Linked DNA regions of Homo sapiens. The protein of the gene in region 1 purifies or fractionates together with the protein of each later gene. This does not show direct contact. Each region holds a gene or a part of one and is shown on either strand. Other genes may lie near its edges. The genes, in order: SMC2 and NCAPG2.

Region 1 (7,284 bases):
CAAGAAAGGGAGGCAATGGTTAGAAGAGCCAGGACTGTTCTATCTGCTCCTCCAGCTGCCCTAAAACATAATCTCAATGCTTCAGCCCAGTGTCTCATGTTACTCTAGGGTATAAACTCAGAGCAGGCTGTTTTCTGGGGTCCCTCAGCTGCTGTGCAAGTTGAGCACGTGCAAATAAAATTCAAACCACCCTAGGCAGCTTTTCTGAGCCTTGGGAGATCAGCTTGCAATGAATCCTAGACTTCTGTTTTCCCTTGTTGCCTATCAATAAGTAATAAATCCATTTCACATAAAATGTTGTGTATGAATGTGTTATGTCTGCTGGCTTCAGACAAGTTGGTAATCTGCACACAATAAACCTGCTTCATAGAGTTTAGGGAGTTAAGCCTGCTTATAGATTTGGAGGGCATCAACATATAGATGATATTTAGAGTTACAGAGCTGGATGAGACCACCTATGGCGTGAGAGTTTATAAAAGATATCAGAGTGCTAGCCTTAGGGCATACTAACATTAAGAGATCTAGAAGAATAAGGGGATACAGAAAAGAAGGATGAAAAAGGAGCAATCAGTGTGTGAAGCTTAAGGACATGACAAGACTAAAGAAAAATGAACCCAAAACAAGGCAGGTCCACATGTTTAGAGCTTTACAAACCTCACCTAAAAAAAAAAAGTAATTGATGAATTGATTTCAGTTCTTGGATGCCACAACACAGACTGCTACAACACGTTCATATCGCTTCAAAATTTTGTCTAAATTTTCCTCCACTGTTTCTTAATTCAACAATGTATTTCTCTGCAAAAATATCTAACAGGGCAGTATAAAGAAATTATTTTCACAAAGTTAATTTTTTTTCAGTGAAAAGGCAAATGTATACCTTCACTGGGACAACAGAATCACCCTCAAAAGAAATGCCATAAGCTCCAAAAACACACCTACTCATCTACCTACATGTGAGACTATATACTTGACTCTTCTGTTACCATGGATGACCTATTCCTAGTTCTCGCGAAGGCGACCTCCTCTATACACTAGTTCCTATCCTACTTGCAGCTACTAAGGGGCCCTATTTTAACAACTCTCCCATCTCTCTCTCCTGAATCACAAATGACGACTTTTCTACTGGATCTTTTCTGTCAATATAGAATTTATTTATCCCATGTCAAATCAAGCCAAAAACTCTCTTCTGTATTACCCTCCAGTTACCTCCCTATTTATCCCTCTTTCAGAAAACTTCTCAAAAAGTTATCTATATTCACTTTTCTTTTTTCTGCCTTCATTCTGTGAGAGTATGAACACAATCTAATCAGGTACTCATGGCCACTTCTCCTTGAAACATCTTTTTTACCTGGACTCCAGGACAATTTACTGGCCTAATTTTCCTCACACTACTCAATCTCTTTTGAATGTTGAACTATCCTAACATTCAAACGTTGAAAGTATCCCAGGGCTCCAACCTTCTTATATGAACTTACAGCCTTGATCATTTTATCTAGTCTCATGGATTTAAATAACACCTATACATTGATGATGCCTCCAAATCTGTATTTTTGCCTGGATTCAATATTCATATAGTTAAGTACCTAATCAACATCACTACTCAAGATGTCTAACAGGCTCCTCAAGCCTATTATATTCATACTGTATTTCTTAAGCTTATCAAACCCGTTCTTCCTATTCTCCACTTACTTCAGTGGCTATCCAACTTAAAATCCCAAATTGTACTCTTTTTCCCCTACACTCCTAATCCCCTTCCCTGCTTTTTCTCCACATCAGTTATCACTCTATAACATGTTACATGTTTTATTTATTTTCTTTATTATCATTTCCCCCAATGGAATGAAGGTCCACAAGGCAAGGATTTTTGACCATTTGGTCCAGTTGTAACCACAGCCCAAACAACTGTACTTAGCTTATAGAAGACACTCACTAAATATTCATGGAATAGATAAATGTACACTAATGAGACTATATACTTGTCTACAAGTGGCACTAGTGGCACATTAAGCTCACTTACCTCAACCATATTTTTTTCCAGCTCTTTGCGTTTGCTTTCCTCACATGCCAGATTTTTCTTCTTGAGATCAAATGCGCTTTGAGATTTAGTATTAACTCGCTGAGCCTCTGCAAGAGCATCTTCTAAAGATCGAAGTATACCTCCAGTTTCCTATAACAAAATGCAGTCAATTCAATCACTTATGTAAAATTTGTTCACGCTGTCATTTTATTGTATGAGTTCTGTATCAAACACTTTTTTATAAGTTATTTCATTATCTTACTATAAGATTAACAAATCAATACGGAAGACAATGCCCAATGAATCCTAAATAGTTACTATATATAATTTAGTACGTTTTTCACAGAGTATATTATCGATTCTTATACATATGTTCAGACCTTATCTTTTCTTTTTTCCAATTCTTCTATTTCATGATTAAGTGCTTTTATTTTTTTATCATTCTCAGACAATTCTTCCTGAAGCTTTATAACTTTATCTTGCATTTCTTTTAATTCCTCAGCTGAGCGTACTTTGGTATCTTCAGCCAGCAAAAACTGATAAGCAATATATAAACGACTCAAATGTTCTATTTCTCTCATTACTTTTTGGTACTCCAAGTAGGACGATCTTTCCTGAAAGAGAAATCACAAAAAAAGAATAACTCAAAATTGTATTAAAAAAAAAATTCAATTATGCAAGATGAAACAAATTTCTCATTACATAATAGATTTTGTCCTGTATTAAACAATTATAGCATTTTAAATTGTAGGAAACTTTACGTAACATCAGAAGTCAGGACTTTTAGATAGCATTCTACCATCTCTAGTGAATCTTATTTGGCTATTTCTTCTAACACACACTTGGGTAGTTGAGCTTAACAAAGAAATATGGACATAAGGTTCATAAGCTTACACACCCACCATGTTACACTATTACATGGATTCTGTAGTAGTAGTATCAAGATGCCTACTCTAATATACTTTGAAGCACTACTACAAGCACTCGCTTACATCATTACTAAACACGACTCCCATAAGGACCTACTGGGACCAGACAAAGTAATAACTAAAATCCTTAATTTATACATAAAAAACAAATTCAGAATGATTAAATGATCTGTCCATGTTGTTAGATTTAGAAAGCAATTGTGGCAAAATGAAGTCTAGGACCTAAGTTTAAATTCCTGATCTAGTGTTTTCTACTAAATCATACATACAAAAAGGGTATCTTCAAGATTACAATTTTTCCAGTAAAATTTATACTACTATATGGATTCACAAGACAGCTCTGAGTAGTACCAAATTTCAATGAGCATTTAATAAATTCCTAAAAGGAGATAGCTTTAAAAACGTCGTTTGGCTGGGCACAGTGGCTCACTCCTGTAATCCCAGCACTTTGCGAGGCCGAGGCAGGTGGATCACTTGAGCCCAGGAGTTCAAGACCAGCCTGAGAAACAATGAGAAACCCTGTCTCTACAAAAAAATAAACTAGCAGGGTGTGGTGGCATGCACCTGTAGTCCCAGCTACTCAGAAGGCTAAGGTGGGAGGATCCCTTGAGACCGGGAGGTGGAGGCTGCAGTGAGCTGTGATGACACCACTGCACTCCAGCCTGGGCGACAGTGAGACTAGTCTCAAGAAAAAGAAAACGTAGCTCATAAATGCATTTTTTGATGACATATTGTGCCATGTCTTTTGACAGTCAGGAGCTGCAAAGATTACAGAGACAATCCAATCCTCTGTTTCAATACCTTTTGCTTACAAAATACCTTGATAGCAATAATTATAGTGATAGCCCCTGTTATCCTGGAAATTGTTCTCAATGAGGGTGTCTAAGAGTGCCTTATCTTTAAGAAATGTTGTTCCAGTCAATGCTAACTAACTAGGAAAATCCAGACTTGCTTAGCTTAAATAAAGTATTAAAATTCGGCATACCATTTTCTGAAACTATAAAAATTACTCTCCAATATCCTATGACTTAGCAGATAAGTGCATATCCTCTGTAAGCAGAACGCTGAGTTATGGAGTGCCAACTCTAATTCCTTATCTCATCGCAGGAAAAAAACCCCCAAGAAATAGTATCACTATGTGTATGATTTTGGATACATTGCTGACTTTGAAAGACATTCTAATAGATTATCCTCACATATACAGAATATACCTCTTTTAATTTTTGAATGGTTGGAGTAATCTCTTCTTCAAGTATCTGGAAAATAAAGAAAAATCAGTATTTTCGCATGTAAAGTATCATTAAAATTTATTTGAAAGAGAAGTAGCAGGGATGACTATGGAAAACTGAACCAAGGAAAAAAATTTTTCCCTCTTTACAGCAAAAACTCTACATGCAAAATTACATTCTTCTCCGAAAATATTTTATATGAATTAAATTACCGTCTTAATTTCTTTCAGCTTAGCCTCCTTTTTTTCTATAGTTTTCTGTGCAGCTATTTTTTTGTATTCATACATCCTGGTTCCAGCTGCTTCTTCTATCATGGATAAAATCTGGAATGACAATTTTATTAATGTTTAGTATCCAAGACAATGTGTCCAACTGGAATTTACATTAAATATATCATTTTTGCCTTGACCTCACTAAACATCTTACCAAAAGTTGGCCCAAATGAACCATATAGGTTAAATATAGTAATTTCACACAAACCTTTTCCTGTAGGCTTTTTCTGTAGGAATGAATTCTGACATGAAACACCAGCTAAGCAAGACTCCTTTATACAATCAAAATCAATTTTAATATTTGGGCATAGTGCCAAATATTACACAAATATACAACTGTCTTTACTAATCATTCCCAAATAATGTCTCCAAAAATTTTAATAGAATATTTAAAAATTGTCTGAAAGATTAAAGTAATATCTATACCAACTATTTTTAATGTCCATAAATAGTACTCTTACCTCTGGAGGTTTCATATTCAATACTTTTGTAATTCGGCCCTGAAAATAAAATAGCAAACTTACTAAGATAACAAATTACAGAAAATGTTTATCTGTACTGCCATTCATGTTTATCTAGACTGAAGCTGTTGTATCTCAATATACCAATCTTTGGGGGGGTCTTTCCTCTATAATTCTTCTATGATTCTAGAATTTTGGAACTTTGCTATTCACTTTCTCACCAGTGATACAAATTATGGAAGTTATGAAATGATACAAATGAAATAATTCATTAAATGATACAAAGTTAACAAGGATCATGTTTCTGAGACAGTTAACATTAAGTAGAAATATTCAAATTTAAAACAGGTAAATATAAAAAGAAATTTCAGCATAATTAAAAAACTTTTAACATTTCTTTGAATGATAACCCTCCAGGATAATTTCACAAAACAGATGACATACTTCTAGGCCTCAAACAAAATACAATATTTTACATCAATGCCAGAAAACCATTAAATTTATTCATTACCAAAAACAAATAAAGCAAAACACCTGCACACCCAGGTCTCAGAGAATTGTATTACTAGAATGTAGATTCATTTAAAGTAAAGTTTCAACTATGAAGGTGTGTAGTGGAAATATTTTTATTTTGGTCCCACTGAGATGCTCCCATCGACTTTACTATAATTCTCTCAAACGGCAGCTGGATGGGTCAAATGAAGTAATGTAAATGTAAGATAAAATCAGCCTTTACTCCTCATTTGTGTGAGTCTCTAAGAAAATTACTCAAGCTTTTATACTTGAAATATTAAGATGCATTAATCCAATAATTTAAAAGGATATATTATGGCTTTTTTTTTTTTACAGTTAACATGTATTGTTCTTTTAGTGACAAAACAAAAAGTCAACAAAAATTACTTCTAAACATTCTAGAGGAGTCAAAGGTCTATAATCCAGTAGAATATATCAGTGCAAGTAACTAAACCATATTTCTAAACAGATGGCCGGACACAGCACAATAGTAAATAAAAAGTATAAAATCCAAAACATAAAGTACTTCTATTTTAATTGCTTAAAAGTAAAAAATGTCGAAACTATTACGAAAGTGATATAAAGACCTCAAACGAAATACCTGCATGATGAGAAAGTGAGGGTTGTTAACATTAAGGCCAACAGAACAGAAGAGATCCTGTACTCTGGTGTTGTTGGCATTGACTCCATTGATTAAATATTTATTTCTACCACCAATAACCACCTATAAAAGAAAGCAATTTTTTAAATATTAATGTACATGCACACCTTGTGCTAGGATAAACTAAGTATATTAGCTTACGTTTATTTGTTCTGTCTGACTAGCAGTAAACAAAACCAATTCTGCATAAATAGTGGAACAAGTATGACATGGTCAAAAACGCTAACTTGAGTCAGGACAGCTAGTATCTAATGCAAGTACTTTTGGTAACTAGTTATGTAATTACACACAAGCCTCTTACCCTGGCCTGCACCAGACTAGGTCTCCGAGGTAACTTCTAGCTTTATGTTTCCAAGTATATGTAAAACACACTTTCCTAGTTACTTTCTTTCTGTAATTTTTCTAGAGGCTTTCTCTACTTTTCAACAGGAATAGATGTCAGACAAAGTAGCTTAGTATCAATTCTTGACAAGATTCAAAAAGCTATTAATAAAGACATGATTTATGACCATTTAAAAGAAAGGGTAATCATGGAGCTTCAGTATGGTTTCATTAAGTCATCCCAGACACCATACTCTACTATCACACTTAAATTGTCATTTATTGGGTATGATTGTCTCATCTACCAGATTGAAGTCCTTAAAGACAAGCTCTGTTTCTCATTCTTCTAACTGTACATCCCAGTACATTCAAGAACACCCAATATACATCAACTATTTAATAAATATTGAATAAATGTTAGTTCATTTCTTTTCCTGACAGGACTACTAGGTTGGTAGTTCATATATTAATGTATTTGAAGACCCTTCTCTGACAAAAATTTTATAATTTTGGTGAAGATACAAGTTTATGGCCTGAATGAGGACAGGAACAATTAGGTAGATTATTAGTAAGAGACTTAGTGACAGTTCCTAAAGGATAAATATTTGATGGATGCCTAATGACATGGAACAGGATTCTGTCCTAACGTGGCCTACGCTTCTTTTTTTTTTTTTTTTTTCAACCAGAGGCTTCCATTAAAATAGAGGAGAAAATCTGTAAGTGATAAATGATAAGATGGACAGTAAATAGGAGTTGACAACATTTTTAAAAACAAAATCTTGGGCCAGGCGCCGTGGCTCACACCTGTAATCCTAGCACTTTGGGAGGCCAAGGCGGGCAGATCATGAGGTCAGGAGATTGAGACCACCCTGGCCAACATA
Region 2 (7,284 bases), on another chromosome or scaffold:
GCCCTCCATCCCCCCATCCTCTCTTCCTGCTCTCCTAGCTCCTCTCCTGCCCTGGTGTTTGTTTTCTCCTCTTCTTAGCGCTCCTTCATTTTTCATCTAGCTTTTTCCACCTCCGCTTGTTCACTTCTATCTACTCTCTTTCCTCGTTTCCTTGACCCTCCTCCCCTTCAATTCTCCTCTCCATTTTCCTTAAGCCTTTGCCTGTCAATCACATGCAAACACAGACCAGCTCTCAAATGTTTGACCTTAGACAGTATCTTGATCTACCTATAGACCCGACATTCAATCATGAACAATTGAATAATTCTTTACGCCTCAATTATGCAGAAAAAATAAGTTAATGGCCCGCTTAAGTCCATTAATGGTAATTTTCCAGTATATCAATGGACAGTTTTGGTGCTGGGGTCATTCATCTGGGTGATGGACCACAGCTACTGTGTTCAAAGATCAAGAGGTTCTATTCAGGGCAAACTCTGGTGACTGAAGGTGACCAGAGAAATGACTGGGCTGATTCATGACGCTTACATCAGGAAATACTAGTTGACTGATGGTTAGGGCACAGAAACGAATCAGGACCCACCCTGCCCTGAGTAAGTTCACAGTCTAGGGGCAAGAATAACAACCTACAGATTGTTAAAATCTATTAGAGGTGTATGCTGAAGGATATAGCCTGAAGGAAAAGAAATAGCTGCCCATCCACCTATGTGACAAACTAGGATGGGCTGCTAACTCCTTCCTGAAAAATCAACCCTGAAGAAATGAGAGTGAGAGAGGTTCCAGTAACAAACTATAGCAACAAAATGAGACACACACCCAGCTTCACTGAAGGCTGTTTGGAGCTGGGGATGTGAGAAATGAGTGGCTGTTGCCTAGGGCACTGAAGAGCTGGCTGGAAGGGCAAGGAAAGGATGGGGGACAAAAGCTGTTCAAATATCAAAATGTTCTACCTCTCCCCAGCATGGCCTTGGGGTGGTCATTGCCTGGCATTGCCACGACATTAGCAGTGACGGCCCAGGCCTCTAGGGCCATAGGACACTGGGCAAAGGCAGGGCAACACAAAAGCCCAGCAGTTAGAAAGAACACGTGCAGACTAGCGAGCTGCCTGTGGGCATCCTTCCACAACCACCTCCAGCCCCCGGATGCAGAAGCTGTGCAGCCCTGTGCTGTACAGAGCGCACCAGGATGAGGGGCCGGTGGGGTGGACATCCTGCAGGGCCTCTCCTCCCTGTGTGAGTGCCCTGGCCACCTGTGCCCCAGCAAGGTGCCTTTTTGTAGTCTATATGCCCAGAGGGAGGTATCCTCTTGTGACTGGCACAATGTGTATGAAGCAGGGGAAGTCTTGTTGCGTAGCAAAAAACTTGGTAGCATAAAGCAACAATTTTACTGTATCTCATGAATCAGATGCTCACTCTTGGGGACACATGCCTGTGCTTAAGGTGGCAGCTGGGTGTTGGATGTCTGGCACTTTGGTGCCCACTAATGAGGTCTCCCTCTGCAGTCTCATCCTCCAGCCTTTGTGTGTGGTCTCTCTCTCCAGCAGAGGGTGATCCTGCACTTCTTACATGACAACCACGGGCTCCGAGAGGAAGTAGAAGCTGCCAAACTTTCTGAAGGCCACTTCCTCAATATTCCGTCCGTCAAAGCAGGCACAAGCCCAATCCAGATTCAAGAGGAGAGGACATAGGCTGCAGAGGGTTATTTAACAGGATTATCCACAATGTTAAATTTCCTGATTTTGAGGATTTTAATGTGATTATATAACAGAATATCTTTTAGAAAAATACGAACTGAAATGTTTAGAGATAAAGAGGCACAATGCCTACAACTGACTCAAGTGATTCAAAAAAATGTAAATACAAAGGATGATAAAGAAAATGTGGCAAGTGGTAAAAACTGGCAAACCTGGACGTAGGGTATTCAGGATTCCTTTGAATTCCTCTTGCAACTTTTCTTTTAACTTAGCAGTTATTTCAACAGGAAAGAAATTACTTCTCCACCCTAACCCTGCCACCCTCCTCCTCCTAAGTCCACACCCTTAGCTTCCCAAATGTGCCCTGCCTCAGGGGCTCGGCCTTTCCCATTCCTTTTGTCTAGAATCTTCTTTTCCCAAATCTCTGCATGGCCCATTTGGATCTCTGATCAAATATAGTCAGGCAATGCATAGTGATATTTCAGTCAATGACAAACCACATATATGAGAGTGGTCCCATAAGATTATAATGGAGCTGAAAAATTCCTATCACCTAGTGATGTCATGGCTGTCAAAACATCATAGTGTAACAGATTAATCACATTTGTGGTAATGTTGGTGTAAACAAACCTACTTTTTATCATTGTTTTAGAGTATATTCCTTCTACATTTTTTTAAGTTAATTGTAAACTAGCCTTAGGCAGGTGCTTCAAGAGAAATTCCTGAAGGCAATGTTATCATAGGAGATGAGATGACAGCTGCATGTCTGTTATTGCCCCTGAAGACCTTCCACTGGGACAAGATGTTAAGGTGGAAGACAGTGATACTGATGATCCTGACTTGGTACAGGCCCAGGCTTATGGTATATTTGTGTCTTAGTTTTTAACAAAAAAGTTTAAAAAGTAAAAATAGATGGCTGGGCATGGTGGCTCACACCTGTAATCCCAGCACTTTGGGAGGCCAAGGCAGGTGGATCACCTGAGATCAGGAGTTTGAGACCAGCCTGGCCAACATGGCGAAACCCTGTCTCTACTAAAAATACAGAAATTAGCCGGTGTGGTGGCGTGTGCCTGTAATCTCAACTATTCAGGAGGCTGAGGCAGGAGAATCACTTGAACCCGGGAGGCGGAGGTTGCAGTGAGCCAAGACGACGCCACTGCACTCCAGCCTGAGCAACAGAGCAAGGCTCCAACTGAAAAGAAAAAAAAAAAAAAGTAAAAATAGAAAAAAGCTATCAAATAGGGGTATAAAGAGAGTATTTTTAGCAAAGACATGGAATAAACCTAAATGCCCATCAATGATAGACTGGATAAAGAAAATGTGGTACATATACACCATGGAATACTATACAGCCATAAAAAAAGAATGAGATCAAGTCCTTTGCGGGGACATAGATGGAGCTGGAGGCCATTATCCATAGCAAACTAACACAGGAACAGAAAACCAAATACAGCATGTTCTCACTTATAAGTAGGAGCTAAATTATGAGAACACATGGACACGGGGGAACAACACACACTGGCCTATTGGAGGGTAGAGGGTGGGAGGAGGGAGAGGATCAGGAAAAATAACTAATATAACTAAATAACTAAAAATAACTAATTACTAGGCTTAATACCTCAGTGATGAAATAATCTGTACAATAAACCCCCATGAGACAAGTTGACCTATGTAACAAACCTGTACATGTAACCCTGAATATAAAAGTTAAAATAAAATAAAATGAAGAAAGATTTTTTGTAAAGCAAAATAAGTTTGTGTTTTAAGCTAAGTGTTATTATAAAGGATTTTAAAAGTTTATCAAGTAAAACAGTTACAGTAAGCTAAGGTTAATTTATTATTGAAGAAAAATGTTTTTATAAATTTACTGTAGCCCAAGTGTAATGTGTTTATAGTTTACAGTAGTGTACAATGACGTATTAGGCCTTCACATTTACTCACTACTCAGTTATTCACCCAGAACAACTTCCAGTTGTGCCAGCTCCAGCTACACTAAGTGCCCTATTCAGATGTACCATTTTTTATGTTTTATACTGTATTTTTACTGTACCTTTTCAATGTTTAGACACACACCATTGTGTTACAACACTGTGCCTACAGTATTCAGTACAGTAACATGCCACACAGGTTTGTAGCCTAGGACGGTAGACTGTACCATCTAGCCCAGGTGTGTACTGAGCTGCTCCATCTGGGTGTATGTAAGCACACTTTAGGATGTTCACACAACAATGAAATGACCTAATGATGCATTTCTCAGAACCTATCCTCATCAAGAGTCATGTGACTGTACCAACTCTGTTCAAATATCATCTCTGAGGTTTTCTTTAGCCACTCCATCGTTCCCAACTTCCACTTCCACTTGCTTTATCAGTAGTAGTAGTATTTTTTTTTTTTTTTTGAGACAGGGTCTCACTTTGTCACCCAGGCTGGAGTGCAGTTGCACAATCATAGCTCACTGTAGCCTCAAACTCCTGGGCTCAAGTAATTCTACTGCCTCAGCCTCCCAAGTAGTTGGGACCACAGGCACAAGCCACTACACTAGGCCAATTTTTTAACATTACTGTAGAGACGGGGTCTTACTATGTTGCCCAGGCCAGTGTTATCCTGGCCTCAAACGATCCTCCTGCCTCAGCCTCCCAAAGCTCTGGAATTACAGAGGTGAGTCACTGTGCCCAGCCTCCACCTGCTTTATTATTTCTCTATGTGTCTTGTTTTTCTTCCTCTACCACTAGAACATAAACCCCCATTTGTGCAGAAACTTTTCTTTGTGTGTACTATAACCCCAACTCTCAGTGCAGTGTCTGGCACACAGAAGGCACTTAGGACATGTTTGTTAAATGATGGAATTCTCCTCAGTGCTGTGTCCTCCTCCCCATCATTGATTCTCCAAGAAGGACAAGGGCATACAGTATAATCAGCTCCACTCTGGAACACTTGCTTGAAAATAAAAATTTGTTCCAACATTGTCAATACATCAAGGAACAATTTGACCAAAGGCAAATTCCCATTTGCTTATGTGGGATTTCATAGGCAAGAAATACCAGGTGAATGCAGAAAACTGCACCCACTGACTGGAGCCACCAGGATCCCATGAAACACAACTCAGACACCTACCAGCTCAGTCCATTCATACCTGGGCCACACATTGTGCCCCTCACCTGCTATGACCCAAAGGCTCCAACCCCACTGCACTGCACCCTCCCCAGGCCCACCGTGCTCTCCAATGCTCTGTATTCCCCTCTGCCTTGCTTGCCTTTTTCTCCTCTGTTCTACCTCATTTTCTTCCTCTTACACACAGAGGGGCAGGTGTACCTTGGGAGCACAGGCACCTACTCCCAACTATAGAATGTAAATATTTTTCAAGGTAAAGTGCCATGCTTACTATAGTATTTATGCATTTCTTACTGATTTAACATATAAAATTATGCTACTGTTTTATTAGGTTCCTGTTTTTAACATGTCACTGGCAAAATTTTTTAGTGTTGTCCCTCTAACTCCATTTTCCCCATAATCTCTCTGGGTTATTTATTTATTTATTTATTTATTTATTTTAACCAATTCTGCAGAGTGCAGTGACTGTTGGTAATGCATGTGTGGGATTACAGCAGAACTAACTGTACTTGGAAAGATCTACCTGATAGGCCCCAAACTGATTTAAATTCTTATCAAATTGAACTATGGGAAACCATCATTATTATATAAAATGGCATTTCTGTCATTCAACTTGATGAAACCACGTGATGCACAATCCTACACATTTTCATTTTTACACGTAAGAGCCACACGGTGACTAGGTACTAAGCTGAACTGTTAAGTGTTAATAAAGCTTATTGATAAACTAGAGTTAATGCCTCATTAGTATAAGGACTAATTCAGTATTCTCCTGAGATGTCTGCTGGCTTTCCAGCAACACTGCAAAGGCTGGTTGGCACACAACGGGTGGCTGGAAACAACGCACCCCAGAAGGGCACCTGTCATTGTGGCCACCAGTGTGATTTTGAGTTGCTATTTTTACCTCTGATTTTCAATTTAGTTTTCTGTGATTTTGTTAACATTATGGTATGCACTTTGCAACAACAATCTTTTAGACTTTAAAATATGTATGTACTGCATTTCCAATACAATCCATATACACTGCTACTGCTAAAGCAGACATTTATATATTATCTAACTAATTTGCTCTTATAAACACTTCTATGGTGATGAGATGCCTATGAGTTTGCGATTATTTTTAAGTTTACAGGATATCATTTTATAATACCAAAACATGTTATAAGCTCATTTCTCTTATAAAGAAAAATGATTTCTTAAATGTTGCCAGTAACAAATTCATTATTAGATTCCTCTAATTCTTTGTCACTAATTTGATTTTCACCACATAATAAGAACAAGTGAGACAAGTGTGCCAAGGGTCTCCTGCCCCAAAGATACTTTCGTATTTCAGAGTCAGTGCCTCCAATGCTGGCTTCCTCAGAGATGTGTCCTAGGCCCTTTTATCTGAAACTCTACAGAGATAACTGCAGGCATTCCCATGACTTAGGCTTCCATGCCCAACCTGTCTCTAGCTCAGCCCTTTCCCCTGGTATCCAGACGTGCATGTCTGACTACTGGCCATCCGCTGGTGCACATCCCACCACCAGTCATCTGGTACCTCCAAAATGGAGCCACATTCTCCCTTGAATCTGCCCTCTTCCCACGTTCATGAGCTTGCTGAATGGTACTACACAGTCAGACGCCTGGGCCCTTCCCCACCATATCCATATCCAATCAGTCCAATAGTGCCATCACTTCACTACCAAGCAGCTTCCCATTTCCAGTTCCTAATTCAACCATCATTTTGAAGAGCACAACCTAAGAGGTTAGCCTTAAATATGTCCCTTTGACATATTTCTCACTTGTAGTCAGAGGAATATTTCCAAAAGGCAAACCATATTTTTCTCCTTACCTCTATTTTGTCCACTAGTTCTCTCTCCTTCTCTTTTGTTCTCTTCCTCCCTTGCCTACAGCTCGCTCCCTGCTTCAAGCACCCACCGTTCTCAAGATAAAGTCTGAATTCCTTAAAATGGTAAAGACTCGTGTAGCCTAGCCCCCAGCCTCATCTTCTGCCTTCCTGCTGAACTTCAAGTTCAAACACAACAAACCTTCTCTAGTCTTCAGAGTGACCTTCTTTGTTAGATGGGTCCTTTCCCCCAACATCCCTCTTTGACTGGTTAACTTCTGTTTATCTTTTACATCTTAGCGTAGCCCACCAGCAGGTAGATTTGAGTATAAAGGGTTTTGTTTTCTTCTTTCAAATAAACATTGGTCGCTAAGGATTCACTGAGATAACTATGTTTCTTTTGGGGACATAATGACTTTAGAACATATTTCATATTCACAGTCAAAAATCACAACAAAACTAAAACATGAAACTTACATCAAGTTGAACAAATTGCAAAAACTCTCCAACCAGCTCCTTAGACACGGCTTGTACAAACGTCTCACGTTTTTCCATGACAGATGGCACTGTTCAAATGGCATTTATTTTGTAACCCTAATGGAAAACACAATCATACTGAAACACTTGCAAATATATCTTTTCCTGTAAGATTTAA

What was found.
Region 2: the proteins of SMC2 (region 1) and NCAPG2 purify together in Homo sapiens (affinity purification with western blotting; 4 studies listed by BioGRID and IntAct, with this or other methods). This does not show direct contact.

What each region holds. Positions count from the first base shown.
Region 1 is NC_000009.12:104,097,307-104,104,590, reverse strand, and holds part of SMC2 (structural maintenance of chromosomes protein 2), read right to left. Parts: intron 6,146-7,284; coding exon 6,023-6,145; intron 4,948-6,022; coding exon 4,909-4,947; intron 4,499-4,908; coding exon 4,388-4,498; intron 4,203-4,387; coding exon 4,158-4,202; intron 2,632-4,157; coding exon 2,398-2,631; intron 2,168-2,397; coding exon 2,018-2,167; intron 1-2,017. UniProt on the Homo sapiens protein: Central component of the condensin complex, a complex required for conversion of interphase chromatin into mitotic-like condense chromosomes.
Region 2 is NC_000007.14:158,694,716-158,701,999, forward strand, and holds part of NCAPG2 (condensin-2 complex subunit G2), read right to left. Parts: intron 7,224-7,284; 5' UTR 7,185-7,223; coding exon 7,107-7,184; intron 1-7,106. UniProt on the Homo sapiens protein: Regulatory subunit of the condensin-2 complex, a complex which establishes mitotic chromosome architecture and is involved in physical rigidity of the chromatid axis.